3 separate regions of the Homo sapiens genome follow, and all the other regions are linked to region 2. Evidence: fine-mapped QTL for protein levels in blood plasma. A gene starts in region 2. Each other region holds a variant in brackets. All regions are shown on one strand. Distances are between the middles of the regions. Region 1 overlaps GIGYF2 (GRB10 interacting GYF protein 2). Region 2 holds the start of EFHD1 (EF-hand domain family member D1). Region 3 overlaps EFHD1 (EF-hand domain family member D1).

What was found. A credible set is the group of variants that fine-mapping cannot tell apart. PIP is the posterior inclusion probability: the model's chance that the variant is causal. Protein levels are from antibody-based Olink assays in UK Biobank. Linkage for the fine-mapping came from a reference panel and not from the study's own genotypes, which makes the PIPs less certain.
Region 1: its variant is the best candidate, but not a certain one, in a credible set for the plasma level of the EFHD1 protein (UK Biobank, PIP 0.68).
Region 3: its variant is the best candidate, but not a certain one, in a credible set for the plasma level of the EFHD1 protein (UK Biobank, PIP 0.54). The variant lies in the coding sequence of EFHD1. If it changes the protein, the assay may bind it differently, which can mimic a change of level.

What each region holds. Positions count from the first base shown.
Region 1 is chr2:232,711,144-232,719,619 of GRCh38, forward strand. The region is part of intron 2 of GIGYF2 (GRB10 interacting GYF protein 2); the gene reads left to right. Among named protein-coding and RNA genes, the nearest start is that of GIGYF2, 18 kb to the left of the region's middle. The variant T/A (reference allele first, on the strand shown) is at 4,970.
Region 2 is chr2:232,630,248-232,638,247 of GRCh38, forward strand. It overlaps EFHD1 (EF-hand domain family member D1), which reads left to right and starts at 3,357. Exons shown (of 4, transcript NM_025202.4): 1 at 3,357-3,759. The coding sequence starts at 3,458. RefSeq lists silencers at 3,395-3,454, 3,532-3,826.
Region 3 is chr2:232,668,669-232,676,668 of GRCh38, forward strand. It overlaps EFHD1 (EF-hand domain family member D1), which reads left to right. Exons shown (of 4, transcript NM_025202.4): 3 at 3,641-3,775. Among named protein-coding and RNA genes, the nearest start is that of GIGYF2, 25 kb to the right of the region's middle. The variant A/G (reference allele first, on the strand shown) is at 3,747.

The DNA of each region.
Region 1 (8,476 bases), 81 kb after region 2:
CAGACTCAAGTGTGGTGGTGTAGTCTTGGCTCCCTGAAACCTCTGCCTATCCTCCCACCTGTACCTCCTGAGTAGCTGGGACTCCAGGCGTGCCACCATGCCTGGCTAATCTTTTTTTTTTTTTTTTGTATTTTTTTATAGAGATAGGGTTTCACCATGTTGCCCAGGCTTTGTCATTTTTTCTTCTTTCTCTGAGGTAGATGTTAATCAACTTTTTGATCTTAGGATCTCTTTACCCTCTTAAAAGTTATTGAGGGCCCCAAAGAGCTTTTGGTTTTTTAGTTGTATCTATCATATCAAGAAATCTAAAAGGTATTAGTTTATTTAAAAATAACAAACTCATTACATGCTAACATAAATATATTTTTAATATGACATACCTATTTTCTAAAACATTTCTAAAAATTTGTTGATAAAATTGGCATTGTTTTACCTTTTTACAGATTTCTTTTATGTCTTGCTTTATAGAAGGCAACTGGGTTATATTTGCTTCTGCATTCAGTCTGTTGCTATTTATTACTTTGGTTGAAGTATATGAAGGAAAATTATCCTCACAATGATGTATATATATATATATATATATAGTTGTAATAGAATTTCAATAGCTTTTACAGATAATTGCAGATATTCTTTGATATTACACTAAAATTCAACCAGCAGTGTTTTTTTTCTTTTTTTGTATTTTTAATTTTTATCGCTTTACTTTAACACTGCATCACCAGGTAGTTTTTTTTTTTAAAGGTTAGTTGCAATATGAAATCCGAGTTATATCAATAGTTTGTCTTCTGTAAATATAAAATCCATTTGTCTATCTTCGATGTTGAATGGATATCTTACATTATACAGTATCAAAAAATCACTTTCATTGAAATCAGCACTTATCAGAAAAGCCTTTAAATATTGGAAAACTTTCTAACTCATGGTGACGAATAGAAACTTTCCAAAATTCCAATTTTTGCTTGAAAGGTCAAATTTTATAATTGGCAACAGGTACTCTGAATTGTTTTTGTTGAAGTCTCATTCATTTTGAAAAAAAAAGTCTGCTACATATCCTAGTCTGGACACCCATATTGTGTGCAGCTATTCTTTCAAGTCAAAATTATGTTCCGTGAAAAAAAGCAGCTAGTTGAGCTTGTAACCCAAAACAATTGCATTAAGTATCCTTCTACATGACTTTGTATGCAGTAGAAATGCATATTTCCCATTTCATCATGTAGAATATTAAAAAGATGTATTCCTAGGGATCAAGATTAATACAATTAATAGTTTTTATTCCCTCGTCATGGGCATTCGTAATAAAAGTGGCTTTTCCCCCCTCTCTCTTATGAGTACATGCCACATGGCAGTGAAGAATATAGTGACTGCTGGTACAGTTTGTTGCAATTAACTTCAGTCATGCTATAGTGCCAGCAGTTTTCCCCATCACTGCACAGTCTGTGCAAGTGTCAACACATTGAAAAATGCAAATAATATTTTGGTTTTTGCAATAGAAGATTCTCAAACTAGCAAATGAGATCACAATAGTATTTTATAATAGTATTATTAAAAAAACACATCATGGATGCCCTGAAAGAGTTTGGAGGTCCATAGATTGTACTTTGTAAACTGCTGCTTTGAGGAGTGGAACACGTTTCAATGTTACATTTATGTATGTTACATTGATTTTTTAAAAAACGATTTAAAAACATAAGTGTTTGAAATTGGAATAAACATATCACTGAAGGTTTTTAGATATTACTGAGTTTTTAGTGCTAAGTAGATAAGAGTTTGTTTATAAGTTAGGATGAGTTATAATTTTCTGCTATGAAGAAAATGTTCTATGAACCTCCACCATCCAGTACTATAACTACTAGCCAGTTGTGTCTGTTGAGCGCTTGAGATGCTACTAGCTGGTGTGACTGAGGAACTGCATTTTTAAAAAGTGTAGAAAAAACTTCTTTTTTTTTTTTTGAAGTGGAGTCTTGTTCTGTTTCACAGGCTGGAGTGCAGTGGCATGATCTCTGCTCACTGTAACCACCGCCTCTTGGGTTCAAGCTATTCTCCAGCCTCAGCCTCCCGAATAGCTGGGATTACAAGCACCCGCCATCATGTGCAACTGATTTTTTGTATTTTTTGGCAGAGACAGGGTTTCACCATGTTGGCCAAGCTGGTCTTGAACTCCTGACCTCAAGTGATCGGCTGACTTTGGCCTCCCAAAGTGCTGGGATTACAGGCATGAGCCACTGGGCCCAGCCTTAACTTCTAAATTTTAACTTTTTTTCTTTAATAATAGGCTTTAGTTTTTACAACAATTGTAGATTTACAGAAAATTGAGAAGATAGTGCGGAATTCCAGTTATTAACATCTTACATTACTATGGTACATTGTTATAATTAATAAACCAATGTTGATACATTGTCATTAATTAAAGTCCCTCATTTATTTACATTTCCTTAATTGTACCTAGTGTCTTTTTCTGTTTCAGAATTCCATCCAGGATACCATGTTATACCTAGTCATGCATCCTTAGGCTTCTTTAGCTATGACAGTTTCTCTTGTCTTTCCTTGTTTTTGATGACCTTGACAAGTTTGAGGAGTACTAGTTATTTTGTAGAATGACTCTCTTTTAGAATTTGATGTTTTTCATGATTAGACTGGGGTTATGGATTTTTAGAGGAAGATGACAAAGTGTCATTTTCATCATATTAAGAGTATATATGTCAGCATGATTTATCATCCTTGATGTTGACCTTCATACTTTGCTAGGTTTGTCCACTGTGAAGTTAGTTATTCCCCCTGGTGCCCTTGAGGAACTGATTTTTTTTTTTTCTCTTTTTTTTTTTTTGAGACGGAGTCTCGCTCTGTCACCCAGGCTGGAGTGTAGTGGTGCGATCTCGGCTCACTGCAAGCTACGCTTCCCGGGTTCATGCCATTCTCCTGCCTCAGCCTCCAGAGTAGCTGGGACTACAGGCACCCACCACCATGCATGGCTAATTTTTTTGTATTTTTTAGTAGAGACAGGGTTTCACCATGTTAGCCAGGATGGTTTCGATCTCCTGACCTCGTGATCCGCCCGTCTCGGCCTCCCAAAGTGCTGGGATTACAGGCGTGAGCCACCATGCCGGACCGAGGAACTGATTTTAAAATTTTGGTTAATCTTAATTTAACTTTACATAGCCACATGTATGTGGCTAATGGGTGCTGTGTCAACAGTACATTTGTAGATAATGTTCTTCAGTTTTAAGTTTTAGCTAAAACTTTAACATCTGTTTTAATACCTTTAAAGAAGGTAATTTAACATAAAAAATATTAAAGCTTAGTCTTGGAATACATTGCTTTTTTGGGGGGTGCAGTCTATTTACTTTTAGTAAGTTTAGTCTTTTTAAAAAAGAACTTTTCTGAGGTAAAATTTACATACAATAAAATACCTTTATTTTAAGTATACTCATTAAGTGTACATTTTGATGAGTTTTCAGAAATGCACACACTGATGTAACTGTTACTGTAATCAAGATATGTAACATTTTCATTATCCCCAGAAGTTTCCCCCAGCTGTTTTGTAGTCATTTTTCCTCCTCCACCACTGTTCTGTTTTCTGTGACTTATTGATTAATATTTGCGTCTTCTAGAAATTCATGTAAATGGAAATCATATTTAGGTCTGGCATCTTTTTTTTTTTCCTATTTTAATACTTTTATGTTCAGGGGTACATGTGCAGATTTGTTACATAGGTAAATGTGTGTCATGGGGGTTTGTGGTATAGATTAGTACCCATTAGTTATTTTTCCCGATCCTCTCCCTTCTCCCACTCTCCACCCTCCACCCTCTGAGAGGCCTCAGTGTGTGTGGTTTCCCTGTGTGTCCATGTGTTCTTATTATTTAGCTGCCACTTTTAAGTGAGAACATGCGGTATTTGGTTTTCTGTTCCTGCATTGGTTTGCTAAGGATAATGGTCTTCAGTTCCATCCATGTTCCTGCAAAGGACATGATCTTTTTCTTTTTTATGGCTGCAGGGTCTGGTATCTTTTGCTTAACATAATTATCTGTGATTCATCCGTATTGCTGCATGCAAATAGTTTGTTTTTTAATGCCAAGAATTTTCCAAGGTATGACTTTACAGTATTTGTTCATAACATTATTTATGAACATTTGGATTGTCCTCAGTTTTGGGCTATTAGACGTAAAGCTGACCTTAATTTCATGGCATAGGTAATGATTCAGAATTGTATTGGGTTGCAGTGTTTATCACAATACTGTAAATTAGAAATTTAAATTCCTGTTAGGAAGGAGAAAAGCCAGCAGTAATTGTAATTACAGATAAGCAGTATCTGTAATTTTTTTGAAGACATGCCATAGAAAGAATAATTCACATAGAAATAATGTTTTGCAAGGTTTCATGTATAGTGTACGGGCCAGGTAGATGTAGACAATTCCTTGGACTTTTGTTGGCTTTCTGGGAAAAAAAAAAAAAAGTTCTTTGTTAATTCCTTAGGTAAAATGTTTAGTAATAAAGTGAATATTGAAGCCTAAGTTTGCTTCATGAAGTTTTGTCATCAGTAAATGTGTTAACAGATCATATTTTAAAAGTTACTCAAAAATGTTGGTGTATTTATTAGTGAAGAGATTTAGTATTGCCAGATGAGGTGGATGCCGAAGGAAAAGGTGTTTTCTGTTATAATAGATGGGAGAAGAATTTCCTTTTTTTTTTTTTTTAACCTTAAAATTCGTCTTAAACCAAGTTAAAGTTGAAATGAGTGATAACTTTTATGACATTTATGTTGGGACTGTAAAAGTATTTCAACAGGCCAGGCCTATGCTTTTTGTGATAATTAAAATACATTTTGTTATAAAGTAATTAAAGAATATTGCAAGTTATGAGAGTAGAGGACAAATCATTAATTTCACCTCACTAATATTCCTTTGTCTTGTGTTCTTTTTGCCTTTTTTTGGACATATGTATAACTATACTGTGTGCAGATGTTACTATAGC[T/A]GTCTTTTGTTGAGTGAATGTGCCACTTTTACAAGATTGCTTCCAGTCTTTTACTATTATAAGTAATGTGGGTCCCCCTCATGTTTGGACTTTTCCTTTTCATCTTACTTAGCTGTTTTCTGACATTTGAAAAAAAGCATTTGAAGATCTACATTCTTTTAGCCTAGTAAATGAGTCTTGCTTCATTTGAATGTAGGCCTCTTTATGGTCTTAGGAGCTGACAGATTTGAAGATTATTTTATCAAGATAATGGTGTTATTTGTTTTTTTTTTTTTTTTTTTTTTGAGACAGAGTCTCACTCTGTCACTCTGGCTGGAGTGTAGTGGCACGATCTCGGCTCACTGCAACTTCCACCTCCCGCGTTCAAGCAATCCTCATGCCTCAGTCATCCCTACTAGCTGGGATTGCAGGCATGTGCCACCACACCTGGCTAATTTCTTTTTGCATTTTTAGTAGTAATGGGGTTTCACCATGTTGGCTCAGCTGGTCTTGAACTCCTGGCCTCATGTGATCTGCCGCCTTGGCCTCCCAAAGTGCTGGGATTACAGGCATGAGCCACTGCGCCTGGCCAGTGTTTTTTTTGTTTTGTTTTGTTTTTTCTTTTCTAATCGCAAAAATTTAAGCAGGGAATGAATTTAATATGTTATCGGAAGACATTCATTTAAAATAGTTTAAATAGCTTTGTTTCATGCTCACTGAAGTTTTTTTTTTGATACAGGGTCTCACTTTGTAGCCCAGGCTGGAGTGCAGTGTCATGATCACAGCTCACTGCTGCCTCAACCTCCTGGGCTCAGGTGATCCTCCAACTTCAGCCTCCCCAGTAGCTGGGACCACAGGCTAGCACCACCACACCTAGCTAATTTTTGTTGTTTTTTTTTTTTTGTAGTGATGGGGTTTTGCCATGTTGCCCAGGCTGGTCTCAAACTCCTGGGCTCAAGCAATCCAGCTGCCTCGGCTTCCCAAAGTCCTGGGATTACAGGCGTGAGCCACCATACTTGGCCTTGAAGTATTTGTAATTGCTAAAGCATTTATGATTTATTTAACACAACTGGAGCTGGGCATAGTAGCTCATACCTGTAATCCCAGTGCTTTGGGAGGCTGAGGCAAGAGGATCATTTGAACCCAGGAGTTTGAGGTTACAGTGGGCTATGGGCACAGCCCTGCACTCTAGCCTGGGCAACAGTGTTGAGACACTGTCTCTAAGAAACAATAATAATAATTGATAGGTAAAATATGGTAAATACATGCACAAATGTGAAGTTTATAGTTCAATACATTTTTACATGTACATATACATGTATATGTACTTTTGTAGTCACCACTTAGATCATGATAGTGAACTTTTCCAGCACTCCAATTCCCTCTCCTTCCTGTTTAGTAGTCTCCTCTTCCCATGATGAGTACTTTCCTGACATCTATCACCATTTATTATCTATTTGTCTTAGTCTGTTTGTGTTGCTATAAAGGAATACCTGAGACTGGGTGATTTATAAAGAAAAGAGGTTTATTTGGCTCATGGTTCTGTAGGCGGTACAAGAAACATCTGCTTCTGGTGAGGGCTTCAGGCTGCTTACACTCATAGTGGAAAGCAAAGGGGAGCCAGTGTGTGTAGATCTCATGGTGAGGGGAGCAAGAGAGAGAGAGAGGAGGGAGGTGTCAGGCTGTTTTTAACAACTAGCTCTCTTGGGAACAAATCAAGTAAGGACTCACTCATTACTGTGAGAGTGGCACCAAGGCATTCATGAGGGATCTGCCCATAATCCAGACACCTCCCATTAGACCTCACCTCCAGCATCTGTGATCAGATTTCAACATGAGATTTGCAGGGGTCATATACCCAAACCATAGTACTCTTCTTGAACATCACATAAAAGGAATCATACAGTATATATTTTTTTCTAGCCAGCTTGTTTTTCTAAACATGATATCTGGGTGATTTCGCAGTATCATTGTGAATATCAGTAATTTTTTTTGTTGTTGTTGTTTGTTTTTTGAGACGAATTCTCACTCTGTTGCCAAGCTGCAGTGCAGTGGCAAGATCTTGGCTCACTGCAGCCTCACTGCAACCTCCACCTCCCAGGTTCAAGCTGTTCTCCTGTCTCAGCCTCCCAAGTAGCTAGGATTACAGGCGCCCACCACCATGCCCAGCTAATTTTTGTAATTTAAGTAGAGACAGGGTTTCACCGTTGTTGGTCAGGCTGGTCTCGAACTCCTGACCTCACGCGATCCACTCACCTTAGCCTCCCACAGTGCTGGGATTATAGGCATGAGCCACCGCACCTGACTAGTTCCTTTTTTTAAACTGCTGAGTAATATTTCATTATATGAGTATACTGCAGATTGGTTTGCCTGTTGATGTACATTTACATTGATGGACATAATACCCAAATGTCAGTTTTTGACAATTATAAATAAAGCTACTATGAATCTCTTGTCTTTTGGTAGAAATATAACTTCAGTTTCCTTGGATGTATGTGTAGCAGTTTGTTATGGGATCACAGGGTAGGCATACAGTTTAGATTTAATGGATATTGCCAATTCTTTTTGAAGTAGTTGAACTAATTTGCACTAATAAAGTTATTAATCTTGTGTTATCTTAATCCAGATCTGGCTAAACTAAAAATTGCTGGCTGCTGTGGTGGGGACAGAACTACTGATTCGTTTAGTATATGTGGAGAGTGCTAGAGGAGTTGGTCTTTTTTCTGCTTTTGGAAAAACGTAGGTAGGCAGTGGGAATGGGGGCAGATTCAGGTTCCTTGGTATTCATTCTGTGTTAGTTTTGTGGCAGACTATACATAGTACTGGCTGGACTCCATCCCAAATTTTGCCATATTTTTTCTGGGTAAGTTTTGCATAGCTAGGAAATAGAGATTTGTAGTAGCACTTTTTTTTTTTTTTGAGACGGAGTCTCGCTTTGTTGCCCAGGCTGGAGCACAGTGGCGTGATCTCGGCTCACTGCAAACTCTGCCTTCGAGCAATTCTTCTGCCTCAGCCTCCCGAGTAGATGGGATTACAGGTGAGAGCCACCGTGCCGGCCACATAATTTTTATAACAAAGATCCAGGGGGTTTTCAAAGATGTGTATGTTTTGAGTTCTTAGTGGAATAGTGGTGGTAGCTAATCTGTCTTCAAGACTTCTGGAAAGCAGTATTCGGGAACACTGTCAAAGTTAAGTATCAGACACTGTGCTGGAATCTGACTCAGCACCTACTTTGGCTTCTCCTTGCTGATTTTACCCACATGGGACTTACTACGTAGATTTGTCACCTTTTTTTTGAAAGTGATTTCCTGAGCTCAGAAGTTGCTTGGTTCCTCTAGGCTGTTCCAGGCTGTAAGAAAATGGTAGGCTAAGAGGGAGAGGTCAGAGTCTGTCTTTTCTTTATTGTAAACTCAACAATAAGAAGGACCTAGGTTGATTTCTTTTCTTTCTTCTCCTGTGAAAATGTACTCAGAGGCCCACAAAGTGATAGATGAGGTCCCAAAGAGGAGATGAATAGTTAAAATAAAG
Region 2 (8,000 bases):
CCCAGCAAGCATGTTTGAGTCTTTGTCAGGTGCCCGACTGGACATCGGAAAAGAGGAGAAGGAGAACAGGCTTTGGGCTGTGGCCGTAACGGTGACCACCTGGAATTGTCACTAGTGAGATACTAACACTTCATTCTGAGGGGTGGCCAGGTGTTGCCTGGTGAATACTGTGGGCCTGTGCTATTTTCCCTCAGGGGCGGGACATAGCTCAGAGGGCGTTCTGTCTAGGCTGGGTGCCTGGTGGACACAGCCCTCAATCTTTGCCCCTTGCAGATGATGTGCCTTTTGAGAGGCACCAGGTGACTGCTCACAGTATGCAAGCGCATTATCTAAAAGCACTCCCTCATTTGGAAACACTTCAATGAAAAAGTGAAATTTTGTTCACAATCCACTCCCATTAATTTCAGAATTTTCAAGGCTGGGCACCGTGGCTCACCCCTGTAATCCCAGCACTTTGGGAGGCCTAGGCAAATAGGATCAATTGAGCCCAGGAGTTCAAGACCTGCCTGGGCAACATAGAGAGATCTCATCTCTATTAAAAAAAAAAAAAAAAGAAAGAAAGAAAAGAAAAAAAGTCATTTTTAATTTAAAAAATTTTCAACATTATATTCATAAATAAAAAGAGCTGTTAGATTTTTTTAACACTAACTGTTGTAAATTTCAGCATGTAAAAAATGGTTTAAAAATTCTATTACTGGCCGGGCACAGTAGCTCATGCCTGTAATCCTAGCACTTTGGGAAGCCAAGACAGGTGGATTCCTTGGGGCCAGGAGTTCAAAACCAGCCTGGCCAACATGGTGAAACCCCGTCTCTACTAAAAATATAAAATATTAGCTGGGCTTGGTGGTGGGTGCCTGTAATCCCAGCTACTTGGGAGGCTGAGGCAGGTGAATCGCTTGAACCTGGGAGGCAGAGGTTGCAGTGAGCCGAGATCGCACCACTGCACTTCAGCCTGGGCAACAAGAGCAAAACTCCGTCTTAAAAAAAAAATTGTATTACCTACTCATGCAAAGTTTCTCTCTCTCTCTCTCTCTTTCTTTCTCTCTCTCTCTCTCTGTCTCTCTCTCTCTCTCAGACAGGTCTTACTCTACCACCCAGGCTAGAGTGCAGTGGCATGATCATGGCTCACTGCAGCCTCCACCTCCCGGGCCCAAGTGATCCCAAATAGCTGGGACTACAGGTGCATACTACCACACCTGGCTAGTTGTTTTTTATTTTATTTTTATTTTTTATTTTATCTTTTTTTGTACACAAGGTTTTGCCATGTTGCCCAAGCTGGTCTCAAACTCCTGGGCTCAAGTGATGCGTCTGCCTCTGCCTCCCAAAGTGCTGGGATTACAGGTGTGAGCCACCGCGCCCAGCCCCAGAGTTTCTTGTTGATGGAGACTATTAAGAATTTTGAACTTTTTCTTTCTTGAGGAGAGCTCGATGGAATAAGAACATTAAAAAAAAAAAAAAACAAAAACAAAACCAGCTGGGTGTGGTGGCTCATGCCTGTAATCCCAGCACTTCGGGAGGCCGAGGTGGGAGGATCGTCTGAGGCTAGGAGTTCACAACCAGCCTAGCCAACATGGAGAAACCCTGTCTCTACTAAAAATACAAAAAATTAGCCAGGTGCAGTGGTGGGCGCCTGTAATCCCAGCTACTCAGGAGGCTGAGGCAGGGGAATCACTTGAACCCAGGAGGCAGGGACTGCAGTGAGCCGAGATCATGCCATTGCACTCCAGCCTGGGAAACAAGAATGAAACTCCATCTCAAAAAAAAAAAAAGTTTTTAAAATATAAAATTAAAAAAAGTTTAATTACACAAAATTTTTGACCTTATTTCTCTGAAATGTGTCACATAAAGTGGTCAAAACAGATGTGACAACAAAGCCAACCTTCTAGTCACCACCACCAGGTCAGGAAGTGTAGCGCCCCGTGATCTATTTGCAGGGTTGCCATTGTATATGTAAAACCCGTATTCTCTGTACCAAGTCAAGTTGTTCAGTAGGAATGTTAAAGATTTTTATACTTTTCTTTAAAAAACGTATTTTCCTTTATAACTTTTTAAAAATAACATTTTAACCCAGGTCCCCCGCATGCCCTGCACTCGCATGCCAAAGGCTGGTCCCTGGGTCTCAGACAACCATAGTCCAGCGGGGTCACTGACCTGCCCCAGTCATCAGCCCATGGTGGGTCAGAGCAGCGTCGTTCTCAAGTGGGGACAGACCCGTGTTTACAAGATTCTCAACGCCTGGCTGATGTAACAGCGGCATCAGCCTTCCTTGGGGAGAATGACGACTGTATTTGTTTTTACCCTCTTGTTAAAAATGCTGATTTAATTTTCAAGCTTCTTTTCCTTCTTTCCTTTCTTTTTTCCTCCCCCTCTCCCTCCTTCTTCTTCGTTTATTTTTAGAGCCAGGGTCTCACTCTGTCGCCCAGGCTGGAGTGCAGTGGCCTGACCATGGCTCGTTGCAGCCTCGACCTCCCGGGCTCAAGCCATCCTCCTACTTCAGCCTCCTGAGTAGCTGGGACTACAGACGAGCGCCACTATGCCTGGCTGATTTTTTAAAAGTTTTTGTAGAGACAGTCTAACTATGTTGCCCAGTCTGGTCTCGAACTCCTGGGCTCAAAAGATCCTGCCACCAACACCTAAGTGTTGGGATTGCGGATGTGAGTCTCCGCGCCAGGTTTCTTCTCTTTTCTTGTGCGTTTCACGCAAAAAAACCCGAGTCCCTGAAGCTACGCTGCTTTCCTGCCTCTAGGGAAAACGGGAGTTTTTTCTGCTCGTTTGCTCTCTCTCTTTTTTGTTTGCTTATTTGTTTTTAGTATTTTTAGCATGTTTTGGAAACATTTCGTTCCAATGAGTGTTTGAAAAGCAGCTCCCCCGCCCCACGCTCCGGGCGGGCGCCTCCCACTCCCTGACCCCGGGGAGGGTGGGCACCACTCCCAGACGCGGGGGACGCGTGGGTGTCGCTCGGGGGCGCTCGCCTCCCCCACCCAGCCTGTCCCGGGCCGCGAGCGCTTCCAGTCGGGTTACTTCTGGGGGACAAGAAAGGCACCGTCTGAACGGTCGAGACGCTTTTTCCCGCTACGGTTTTCCCCGGAGCTGACAGGGGCAGCAAGGTCGGAGTTGATCCGAGGGTCCCTGCCTGGTCCCGGGGGGACGGTCAGCCTCCCGCCCGGAGCCGCGGGGAGAGGAAGCAGGTCGGGGTCTCCGGGACGCGCAGACACCCAGACACCGGCGGCCTCCTCCCACCAGGCTGGCAGTCGCTGAGCCCTGGCGCCTCCTTAAAGCCGCAGCTCCGCCCCGACCGCCCCGCCCGCCAGTCCGTCCTCAGACCCTCCCAACCGCCGGGTCCCCGCCGCCTCGGCGGAGTGTTGTAGAGCCTCGAGCCTGCGAGGAGCGCGCCGCCCGCCAGCTCCCTGCGTCCCGTCCCGCGTCCCCGCGTTCCCGCGTCCTGCGATCCGCCGCCATGGCCAGTGAGGAGCTGGCGTGCAAGCTGGAGCGCCGGCTGCGGCGCGAGGAGGCCGAGGAGAGTGGCCCCCAGCTGGCTCCCCTCGGCGCCCCAGCCCCGGAGCCCAAGCCCGAGCCCGAGCCTCCCGCCCGTGCGCCCACGGCCAGCGCCGACGCGGAGCTGAGCGCCCAGCTGAGCCGGCGGCTGGACATCAACGAGGGCGCTGCGCGGCCCCGGCGCTGCAGGGTCTTCAACCCCTACACGGAGTTCCCGGAGTTCAGCCGCCGCCTCATCAAGGACCTGGAGAGCATGTTCAAACTGTGAGCTCCCGCTGCGCGCCCTTCGCCCCCGGGACCAGGGAGGGAGCGGGAGGGCTTTCTGGTCCGAAGTCCCGGGCCCTGTTTGTGTGGGGAGGGGTCCCGGGGTGCAGGTAGCATTTGGCCCAACGCAGCCAGATCTTGCGTGCTCGGGTCTATCTCGGCGCGGTGGGGGACGGGGCCGAAGAGGGGGGACACCAGGAGCAGGAGCTCTCCGGGACGGAGCCCAAAAGTTCTCGGCGGCTGCCGGGCCCGAGTTCCAGGTCCCCCAACCCCGACCACTGGTCCCGCCCCCTCCGCCCGCCAGTCCGGAGATTTGCTCCGAAAGCAACTTCTAGGAAAGGGAGCCGTCGCCGCGCCTCACCTGCCAGCTTTCACTGTATCCCCCCAAGGGAAAAATTAGCCCCTGTTGGCCTTTTATCTTTTAAAACAAAAGGGGAAAGTTAATCCTTGGCTGCAGCGCGGGGTCTGATGAATGAGCGGAGGCCGAGAACGGGGAGTTTGGTAAAGTCGTTGTAAGAGATTCAGGACTTTCCTGGAGCAGGCGCGGCCCGGGAGCCTCCTGGGGGCGCGGGGAGGGGGGGCGGTTGTGGGAACCGAACTTGGCCGCTGGCACCGGTCCGGCGGGGGCTCGTTGCGGTCCTGCTCTGTGAGCCCCAGTGCGCGGGGAGCCGCTCACCTGGGGAGACACTGAGCCAGAGGCAGGCGATAGAGACCCACTAGTCCACCTCGTCGCCTGGAACCTCCGGGGATCTCAGTTTCCTCATCTGGAGAGTGGGAGCAGTAACAGTCCCTGCCTTTTAAGGCCGAAAAGTATTTTGCACCCGGTAAGCTCTTAACCGAGCTATTAATATTTCCAGAATTGAGCCGAGACCGGAAAAATGCCTGGGGGAGCTGAGGCCGCCGGCCAGGTCATGCTTGGGCGTTTTTAAAAGCGCATGGAATGTGTTTGCCCTCCGCGTGGAGGTTCTATTTAAAGGCGCTGTGACTGGCGCTGCGTCGCCTGAGCCTCCGCTGCCCCTGCATGGAGGTTTGCAGAGCCGGCACTTGGGAGCCTCCGCCTCCTCTGCCTCCCTGACACCCTGGTTTCTTTGTCTGGCTTCCAGGCACTGATCTGTGGCGTTTTCTGGGTCTAGTTTGGGCAGTTCAGGAAGGCCCAGTGCGCTAAAGAATGCGGCTGGGGCGAAAATGGAAAAGCAATGGGTGAGGCAAGGTTTGTTGGAGCCCTTTGATTTCTCTGGGGTAATGCCTTTCATGGGAAGACTGCCCTGGCCGGGCTGCTCCCAGACCCCACCAGTTCCTCCCAGTCCAGCTGGATTCAGGGGATCTTGGGGAGGGACCTTTATCTTCAAGTTTTCTTGTGGCCACTCAGGCTTCTTTTGTTTTTCCTATAAAACAATCTTTGGAAAGATCAACTTGTAGTTGACTACCTAAGAGTGATAAAAAGAGTCCATATGCTCAGAGGGTCTTGGGAGACGAAGCAAGGTGGCATCTGTGAGCAAACAGGTACTGGACCAGGATCACGCAAAGGGGAGCCGGGCACAGTGGCTTACGGCTGTAATCCCAGCACTCTGGGAGGACGAGGCAGGCGGATCACCTGGGGTCAGGAGTTCAAGACCAGCCTGGCCAACATGGTGAAACCCCATCTCTACTAAAAATCCAAGAATTAGCCGGGAGTGGTGGCGCGGGCCTGTAGTCCCAGCTACTCGGGAGGCTGAGGTGGGAGAATTGCTTGAACCTGGGAGGCAAAGGTTGCAGTGAGCAGAGATCACACCATTGCACTCCAGCCAGGGTGACAGAGGGAGATTCTGTCTCAAGGGGAAAAAAAAAAAGCCAAGGGGAAGGCAGTGTGTGGCCTGGGATCCCAGCAGAGCTAACAGTTCAACCAGTACTTGGTATTTCTTTCTAGGTTGAGTTTTCTGTCACTTGCAACCAAAATTGGCATAAACAAAACGAGAATAATTTGGCTGAGGAAACCAAAAAGCCATCACTAGCTTCAGGTGTGGCTGGATCTAGGCGCTTAGGTGCTGCCATCAGTGCTTAGTTTCTCTTTTTGTTAAGCCACCTTCCTCTCTGCGTTGTCCCCGTTCTCAGATGGCTCATCCTTGGTGGTGGTGGTATGGCCACAACAGCTTAAATTAATAACATAAGAATGTTAAAAACACTAAAGAAAATGTAACACACCAATTTGTTTTCTATTGGATTACCTTCCAGATTTTACTCATGGCAGCAGCAGTCTTGTGAGGCTGTGAAGAGTGAGCACTTGGAGGCAGGCTTCCTGGGTTCAAACCCCAGCCCCACCACTTGCTCCCTGGAAGGTTCCTTGGGCAGCTTATTTAAAAGCTCTGTGCCATCAGTTTTCCCTTCTGTCAAATGGGAAAGCACAGGACCTGCCATGTGGGGTTATTGTGGGGATTAAATTAATTCATGTATGTGATGCATTTAGCTCCATGTTTCAGCCTATGGTGAAGGCCAGGTGGATTTTAGCCCCTAATTTTTAGATTATCACATATCCATAATTTGGGTAAATGTGCACATTTGGCTGGGTGTGGTGGCTCACACCTGTAATCGCAGCACTTTGGGAGGCTGAGGCAGGCGGATCATGAGGTCAGGAGTTCGAGGCCAGCCTGATCAACGTGGTGAAACCCCGTCTCTACTAAAAATACAAAAATTAGCCAGGCATGGTGCCACACGCCTGTAATCCAGCTACTCAGGAGGCTGAGGCAGGAGAATCGCTTGAACCTGGGAGGTGGAGGTTGCAGTGAGCCGAGATCACGCCATTGCACTCTAGCCTGGGCAACAGAGTGCGACTCCGTCTCAAAAAAATAAAAAAAGTACACATTTTGTGTTGTCCTTTTTTGTTTAATAATTCACTTTGCTGAGTCCACTTTATCTTTTGAACCTGATTTAGCCCACAGTTTGAGCTGTGGAGTGGTGACCTGGCCTCTTGGTGAGTTCCGGGTCCCCGTGGGACTGTGTGCTTTGCCCTTCCGGGTTCTGCGGAAGGAACTCGTTAGCTCCTCTGCTGCTGGGTGAGGTCGTTTGTTTCTTAGAGCTGCCTGAATGAAATGCCACAAAGTGGGTAGCATAAAACAACAGAAGTATATCCTCTCATAGTTCTGGAAATCAGAAGTCTGACAAGTCTGAAACCAACGTGTCAGCCGGGCTGTGCTGCCCTTGAGGCGCCAGCGAAGACTCCTTCTGTGCCTGTTTCCTGGCTTCTGGTGGTTGCCAGAATTCTTGGTATTTCTTGTGGTATGGGCGCATCACCGTAATCTCTGCCACCCTGAGCACCTGGTGCTCTCCCTGTGTGTGTTTCTGTGTCTTCACATGGCCTTCCTTTTTTTTTTTTTTTTTTGAGATGGAGTCTCACTCCATTGCCCAGGCTGGAGTGCAGTGGTGCGATCTTGGCTCGCTGCAAGCTCCACCTCTTGGGTTCATGCCATTCTCTTGCCTCAGCCTCCCGAGTAGCTAGGACTACAGGCGCGCACCACCATGCCCAGGTAATTTTTGTATTTTTAGTAGAGATGGGGTTTCACCATGTTGGCCAGGCTGGTCTTGAACCCCTGACCTCAAATGATCCACCCGCCTCAGCCTCCCAAAACGCTGGGATTACAGGCGTGAGCCACCGCGCCTGGCTTAAGAATTTCACTTTTAAGCAGTTTCTAGATTCATGTTCTGATGTCGCCTTAGTTCGTTGGGCCCCTTGCAGTATATAACCTGATTAGACCAGTACAAAGTACACCCTGTCTTTTTGTTTGGGGCTAGAAAGATTCATACAGATACTGGGAGACATGCTTTGATCGTTTAAATTTGATTTTCCTATTTAAAAGTATTTGGCTTAGGGATTTCTTACATTTTCAAGGCTTAAAAAAACTGGATCCTTCCCAGCCTCTGAGTTTGTTGGGTGCTTGGAGTGGTGTCCTTTGTGAGTCCTTAGGACCTAACAAATGAGGCTGGCTCCTAAATGGTGTGTTGTAGAAGAAAGAGTGTTTTCTAATGAGTGTGGGAAGCCAGAGGCACCATCAGCCCGGCCAGAGAAAGTTCCCTCTCCATTTCCAAGCCTGTTACTGGATAGCCTGAGCCAAGAGAATAGTGGCCTGATTTTAAAAGAATGAGAAGGCCCAGAAGAAACTGACTCTACAGCGTGTATCCGTGGCTGTAACGTGAGCTGGTGGAGCAGTCAAGGTTAGACAGGAAATTTTAATTACCCTGGACTTATCTGGAGGCCTCTTTCAAAGGGA
Region 3 (8,000 bases), 38 kb after region 2:
TGTCACCCAGGCTGGAGTGCAATGGCGCGATCTCGGCTCACTGCAACCTCCACCCCTCAGATTCAAGCGATTCTCGTGCCTCAGCCTCCCGAGTAGCTGGGATTACAGTTGTGTACCACCATGCCCGGCTAATTTTGGTATTTTTAGTAGAGATGGGGTTTCACCATGTTGGTCATGCTGGTCTCGAACTCCGGACCTCAGGTGATCCGCTCGACTCAGCCTCCCAAAATGCTGAGATTACAGGTGTGAGCCACCACGCCCAGCCAGTGCTCCCATCTTTTCACAGCTGCCTGTCTGGGTCCCAGAGAGCACTGGCCTGGTGGGGCTGCCTGTTCTCTTTGCCTCGTGGAGCAAGGAGGTGGGGCCTTCTGTGAAGGAAATGATTTAAGGATAGCAGGGCACGGAGCGACCAGTATGTCAGTCCCTCTCTCCACATGCCTCTCATCCGCAGCCCTGAAGTCTGCTGCTTCGATCTTTTCCACCCCTGTGTCACCATCCCCTTGACCTCCAACCTATTCTTGGGGGGCCTGGCCTCCTCCAAGGGGCCTGTCTTCTTTCAAGTCAATGTTCAGGTTCTGATAATCCACAGCAAACTGAGTCTCTGCCGGCCTCTAGTGAGAGAGTTTGAAGCTGCAGGTGGTTGAACATGGCTGACCGTCGGCCTCTCCGTGGGCATCTTGCTGTGTCTCTTGCTTTGTATTTGACAATATCCACGGTAGCGTTAGGACCCTGAAGGGAGCAATAGGAAGAGGGTGTCTTACAAGGCATTTCGGGGATGCGGTGGTTGAGCCTCTCACCGGCATGAAACACACTTCCCTCTGGGGATTGAGAGCCTCGGCAGTAATGATACTCAAGTGAGGATTTGGAAGGCCTGTAGAAGTTGCTTAACCTATCACTCTACTTTAAGTAGTGTTCTTTTCCCTTTTGAGAAGGCTTTTTTTTTTTTTTTTTAGACAGAGTCTTGCTCTGTAGCCCAGGCTGGAGTGCAATGGTACGACCTCGGCTCACTGCAACCTCCACCTCCTGGGTTCAAGCGATTCTCCTGCTTCAGGCTCCTGAGTAGCTGGGATTATAGGCAGGCACCACCACGCCCGGCTAATCTTTGTATTTTTAGTGGAGACGGGGTTTCACCATGTTGGTCAGGCTGGTCTCGAACTCCTGACCTCGTGATCCACCTGCCTTGGCCTCCCAAAGTGCTGGGATTACAGGCGTGAGCCACTGCACCTGGCGAGAAGGCATTCTTTTAGGGAAGAGGGTTATGAAAAAAGACCTGGAAACCTGCAATTTTCCTGTGGGTGCATACATTTTAGGTAGCACCTGAAAACCTGGAGAGAGCCTCTTTCGATGATAGCTTGGAACGTATCAGTTTATATTCTTTCCATATGGAAAAATAAGTCATGAAGCTTAGATAGCAGTTGTTTAAAGAAGAGAACTAAAAAAGCCACAAAATTGCCTTGGGAGAGGACAGGAAGATGGGGAAATTGCCATTTAAGTTTGGCCAATTTATAGCTGGGCATGGTGGCTCATGCCTGCAATCCCAGCACTTTGGGAGGCCTGAGGCTAGGAGTTCAAGACCAGCTTGGTCAACATGGTGAAACCCCATTTCTACTAAAAATACAAAAATTAACCAGGTGTGATGTCACGCTCCTGTAATCCAAGCTACTTGGGAGGCTGAGGCGGGAGGATCACTTGAACCCGGGAGGCAGAGGTTGCAGTGAGCCGAGATCGAGCCATTGCACTCCAGCCTGAGCAACAGAGCAAGACTGCATCTCAAAAAAAAAAAGGTTGGCCAATTTATTTATTTAAAAGTTTGTTCTTTGGAAGCCTGAAGATTAATTAATTCAGGTCACATTTTGAATCTGGAGGAGGAGGGTGGATTATTCAACAAATGATGCAAGGATTACTAACCAACCATTTGGAAGAAAATAAGGTTAATGATTAACCTCACATGATAAATAAAAATAAATTTCAGAGATTAAATATTTACATGGTTAAAAAAAAAAAGAAGCCATAAAAGTTGTAGACAAAACATAGGTGGTTGTTTATATAACCTTGGTGCTGAGGAAGGTTTTTCTAAGCATAACACTATATGTAAAATTTTTGAAAGTTGAAAATTAGCATAAACATACTTAAAAGGCAAGTGATAGAGCTAAAATATTTGAAACATACCAGGTTCTATGAAGATCTTTAGCAAATGGTAAGAAAGGCAAACAATCTAATGCAAAAATGAGACACACAAGAAAAGTACAAGTTGTTAAAAAACCATTGGAAATATTATTTAGTTTTTAAAAAATAGTATATACAGGTTTATTTGATTTTTCTTTCATCACTGTAAACTAGGATGCTGCTAATTTTTTACTTTCATAGATAATGTTTAAACCATTGTAGGAATGTTTCTGAAGGATAAATTCCCACCAGTGGAATTAATGGTTGGAAGGCAAAAAGCATCTTATTTTCAGTAAACATTTCCAAAGTGCCCATCAAGGCCAGGCACAGTGCCTCACACCTGTAATTTCAGCACTTTAGGAGACTGAGGCAGGAGGATCACTTGAGACCAGGAGTTTGAGACCAGCCTGGGCAACGTAGAAGACCCTGTCTCTACAAATTAAAAAAAAAAAAAATTAGCCAGGTGTGGTGGCACACGCCTGTGGTCCCAGCTACTCAGGAATCAGAGGGCATAGGACCACCTGAGCCCAGGAGGTCAAGGTTGCAGTGAGCTATGAACACACCACAGCACTCCAGAGCGAGACCCTGTCTCAAGAAAATAAATAAATAGGCTGGGTGCAGTGGCTCACACCTGTAATCCCAGCACTTTGGGAGGCCGAGGCGGGCGGATTACCTGAGGTCAGAAGTTTGAGACCAGCCTGACCAACATGGAGAAACCCCGTCTCTACTAAAATACAAAAAAATTAGCGAGGCATGATGGTGCATCCCTGTAATCCCAGCTACTCGAGAGGCTGAGGCAGGAGAATCGCTTGAACCTGGGAGGCAGAGGTTGCAGTGAGCCGAGATCGCACCACTGCACTCCAGCCTGGGCAACAAGAGTGAAACTCCATCTCAAAAAATTAAATAAATAAAAAAGAAAATAAATAAATAAAAGTTTGAGGGTGGGAGGCAGTGGCTCACGCCTGTAATCCCAGCACTTTGGGAGGCCGAGGCGGACAGATCACTTGAGGTCAGGAGTTTGAGACCAACCTGGCCAACATGGCAAAACCCCATCCCTACTAAAAATATAAAAATTAGCCGCGCATGGTGGCACACACCTGTAATCCCAGCTACTCGGGAGGCTGAGACATGAGAATCGCTTGAGCCCAGAGGCAGAGGTTGCAGTGAGCCGAGATCATGCCATTGCACTCCAGCCTGGGCAACAGAGCGAGACTCTGCCTCAAAAAAAAAAAAAAAGTTTGAATCGGTTTACACTCTCAAATAAATATGAAGGTGCCCATTTCCCTATAGCCTTGGGAAAAATCGGCATGTTTTCATTTTTGACAATCTGATGAGGGAAAAAAGTAATTTGCCACATGCATACATAAACATCTTTCTTAAGTGATTGGCAGAGTGACTTCAGCTTGGACCAGAGGGCTGGTTATGAATCTGTCAGTGAGACTGACTCTGGTTCCCTACTTTCTTTCCCCTGTAGTTCCTGCTCATTTTCCACAAGGCCGCGGCAGGGGAGCTGCAGGAGGACAGTGGGCTGATGGCGCTGGCAAAGCTTTCTGAGATCGATGTGGCCCTGGAGGGTGTCA[A/G]AGGTGCCAAGAACTTCTTTGAAGCCAAGGTAGGTGCTTAGTTCCTTCTGTGAGGAGCAACCACTCCCAGCCTTCACGCTGCCCACCAGACTGCAGCTGTCATTTTCATCTCAGCAGAGCACACCTGCAGAAACAGACCAGGAGGGTCCTCCCAGTGCTCTGCCAACCAGCAAGTGGGTGCCAGTCCACCTGAGTTCAGACTCTGCCTCCTCCATCTCCCTACCCTGTCCACTCTGAGCCTCGGTGTCTTCATCTGTATGATGGAGGGGTGACAATAGAATTGCCTGAATGATTAAATGAGTTCATGTACATGAAAGCATTTAGGAAGTGCCTGGCTCACTGTGAGCCCTTCATAGGTGGTATGGGCTGTTGGGACTCTTGTGGAGTTTTGTTTTAGTTTATTCTGGAAGCTTGCCCAGAGACAGAGTGCCTTGGTGACATATCCTGGCCTGCCCAGTCCCCTAAGCAGGACTCTAAATTCTTACTTCTCTTTGAGGCTGCTTGGAGACAGATTTCATCATCTCTCTGCCATGCTGAAAGCCCAGTGCTCTCATCTGACAGTGTCAGGGACAAGCCAACCACTCATTGCGCCTTAAACACTGGCACCATGTGTCCAATAATGAAAGTGGTTTGGTCCTTCCTTCCTGACTTAACATTGATTCAGCCCATCTCCAGCAAAGCTGGGCACCGCATTGAGCTCTAAGATACAACTCCTTTCTAAAGGCGAAGTGGTCATAACTGTTGCCCTTCCCAGGGCACACACATAGTCCAGTGAAGAAAGCAAGTGCCACAATGACACAGAGAGGGTAGAGAGGAGGGAAGGGCTATTTTGCAGGGATGGGTCTTCTCCATCCATTGAGTATATAACATGCAGATGTCTTATGATGCTTTGGGAGAGGTGCTAGGGTTGAGAGCCCGAGCTTAGCAGGACAGTTTTCACTCCACTGCTCCAGTGCAAGGTGATACGTGCTCTAGTTGAAGTAGGTTTGAGTGTCTGGGAATGTCTTATCTGGGTATTCAAGACCTGTTATGATCTGGCTCTGATCCCTGCTTCAGCCTCATCCACCCCCTGCAAATGCTGCCACGCCTTTCCCAACTGGATCTCCTGTCCCCTCTGCCTGAACGCCCTACCCAAATGCCTCTGCCTAGAAAACTCTGCTTCATCCAGACCCACATTGAAGAGTTCCCTCCCCTGGGCTGCTTTCCCTGACTGTCCATCCTCTTCTGTGTGCCTCTAGTACACATGGAAGTGGTGTTATAATTTATCGTTTCAAGGCACCCTTACATGCTTTTGGTAAAAGTATAAATTAACCCAGCTTTTTATTTTATTTTATTTTTTGAGATGGAGTGTCGCTCTGCCACCCAGGCTGGAGTGCAGTGGCAGAATCTTGGCTCACTGCAACTTTGACCCAACTTTTTGTAAAGCAGTTTGAAACTAACTATGCACATTTTATATTTTTCCCTTCCAGAATTCTACCTCTTAAGACTTCTTCTTTTTTTTTTTTTTTTTTTGAGATTGAGTCTCACTCTGTCTCCCAGGCTGCAGTACAGTGGCACGATCTTGGCTCACTGGCACCTCTGCCTCCCAGGTTCAAGCAATTCTCCTGCCTTAGCATCCTGAGTAGCTGGGCCTACAGGCGCCCACCACCACGCCCAGCTAATTTTTGTATTTTTAGTAGAGACAGGGTTTCACGATATTGGCCATGCTGGTGTCAAACTCCTGACCTCGTGATCTGCCTGCCTCCACCTCCCAAAATGCTGGGATAACAGGCGTGAGCCACCGCACCCATGCAAATGCACATACATGTATGGACAAGGATTTTCATACAATAGTGTTAGTGATAGAGAAAAATTAGAAATAACCAAAACTTCCATTATCAGGGAAGTGAGTTCATTGTGATATACCCACACATTTGCACACTCTGCAGCTGTCAAAAAATGAGATGCAGCTGCGTGTCCGTGTGGACAGATGTCCAGAATAAATGAAGCAAGACAATATGCTGGAAACCTAATTTTGTAAACATGAAATCCAACCTGGATCATTATATGCCAAAGTATCAGTAATAGTTTTGTCAGAGGGACTTATTTTATATTTTTGTAATGTTTTACAATGAGTGTGCATTATTTTTATAACTGGAGAAAAGATGAAAAGAATGACAATAAAAATTCTTACAGCTCGTTATGTTTATAGGTCTGCCTCCTCACCCAGAATCAAAGGCAGAGTAGGTATGATATCTTTGTAATTACAGTGCTTGGTATATAATGGCCCTCAATAAACATTTGCATGGATGACAAATGGAGGGCATCGTCACTGGATTTGGGAGAGGGCCATAAAGGAGCCGCCATTTGTGACAGATGTTCCAAGATGAATGGGGATTCACCTTGTAATCAAGGAAGGGAGGGCGTTGTGATCGTGGGAACACCAAGTGGAAGGCTCCAAGGCATAGAGGGTGAGACGTGTTTGGAGGCTGGAGAGGCGTCCCAATGTGAGGATACAGGATGTGTGAGGGAGCAGGGCTGGTGACATGGCCGGAGGTGAAAGCCAAGATGCAAATATGGTGACCCCAGCCTGGCCAACATGGTGAAACCCATCTCCACTAAAAATACAAAAATTAGCTGGGTGTGGTGGTGCACACCTGTAATCCCAGCTACTTGGAAAGCTGAGGCAGGAGAATTGCTTGAACCCGGGAGGCGGAGGCTGCAGTGAGCCGAGATCGTGTCACTGCACTCCAGCCTGGGTGACAGAGCACGACTCCACCTCAAAAGAAAAAAAAGAGAGAGAGAAAAGAAAGGAAGGAAGGAAGGAAGGAGAAAGAAAGAGAGAAAGAAAAGAAAGAAAAGAAAAGAAAAGAAAAGAAAGAAAGAATATGGTGATCAGGAAACTGGGCCAGCACTTGCCACCCTTTGGCACACCATGGCACATGTGGTCTATGACTCTGAGATAGGATGGCTCCCAGCTACACTAGACGCTATTGGACAGAGAGCTCCAGCCTCCCTGAGGCTGAGAGGAGTTCCTCTCTGGGCACCTGGTTGGGAAGGTCAGGCCTTCCCCCGACTGCTGAGTGTTAGAACCACCTGCACACCGGCTTCCCAGGCCCACCCACATCCACCTGGGATTTCTCCAAGGTGGGTTTCAGGAAACGTGTAGTCGATGGAGCTGTGACATGATTCCGATGCACAGCCGCAGGTGCAGGGGAGCCGTTGAGTGTTTGAGCAGGGCCTTGACGTGATCGGGGTGGGCACTACCAGGACACACTTGCCTGGGGACAGTTTAGACTCAGGGAAGTTTTCACAGATGTCCTGAGAAGAATTGTGGGTCCAATAAGGGTAGGGACAACCAGACTAGAGAGGAGGAGGAGACAAATTGAGAATTCTCTGGAAGTCTCAGTGTTCATCACTCCATTGGAGGAGGGAGATAAGTGCCATGAGGTTTGTAAGGAGGGGAGTTGATGATATTTTTCATCAAGACCAGCCTCCCAGGCCAATTGCGGTGGCTCACATCTGTAATCGCAGCACTTTAGGAGGGTGAGGTGGGAGGATTACTTGAGGTTAGGAGTTTGAGACCAGCCTGGCCAACATGGTGAAACCCCATCTCTACTAAAAATACAAAAATTAGCCGGGCATGGTGGCATGCGCCTGTAATCCCAGCTACTCAGGAGGCTGAGGCATGAGAATCGCTTGAACCCAGAGGCAGAGGTTGCAGTGAGCCGAGATCAGGCCATTGCACTCCAGCCTGGGCGACAGAGCAAGACCATGTCTCAAAGGAAAAAAAAAAGCCTGGCCTCCCCCTATTCCCAGAATGGCTGTGGTTTGAGGAGGAAAAGTTATGAACTGGGTTTGGTTTCAAGTGTGAGGTGACTTCAGGCACGGGAAAGGCGTGCCCTTTCATTTGAAGGCCATCATGTTGGTTGCAAATAGTTTCTGATCACATCCTGTTTGACCGAACCTGGTGACTCCTGGCTGCATGGGAGGTTAGGGAATGTCTTTTTTTCCGGGATCTGTCTGCCCGGCTGTAATTATGCCACTAGGGAAGATGAGGATCCTATGTGTTGAGGGTCATGGAGTAATTTCTTCCACACATGCCCAATTCTGAACCTGCCATTGGAAAACGCTGGAATATCATTATCTCAGCTGGGCTCTCCTGGAGCCGGGGGTGGAGTCAGTCTCCCTTAGGCCCCTGGGCCATGTTGCAGGCCTCATAGCAAGAAATAAGGCAGGAAGTGGGTGCTTCTGGGCACCTCACAACATAGACCA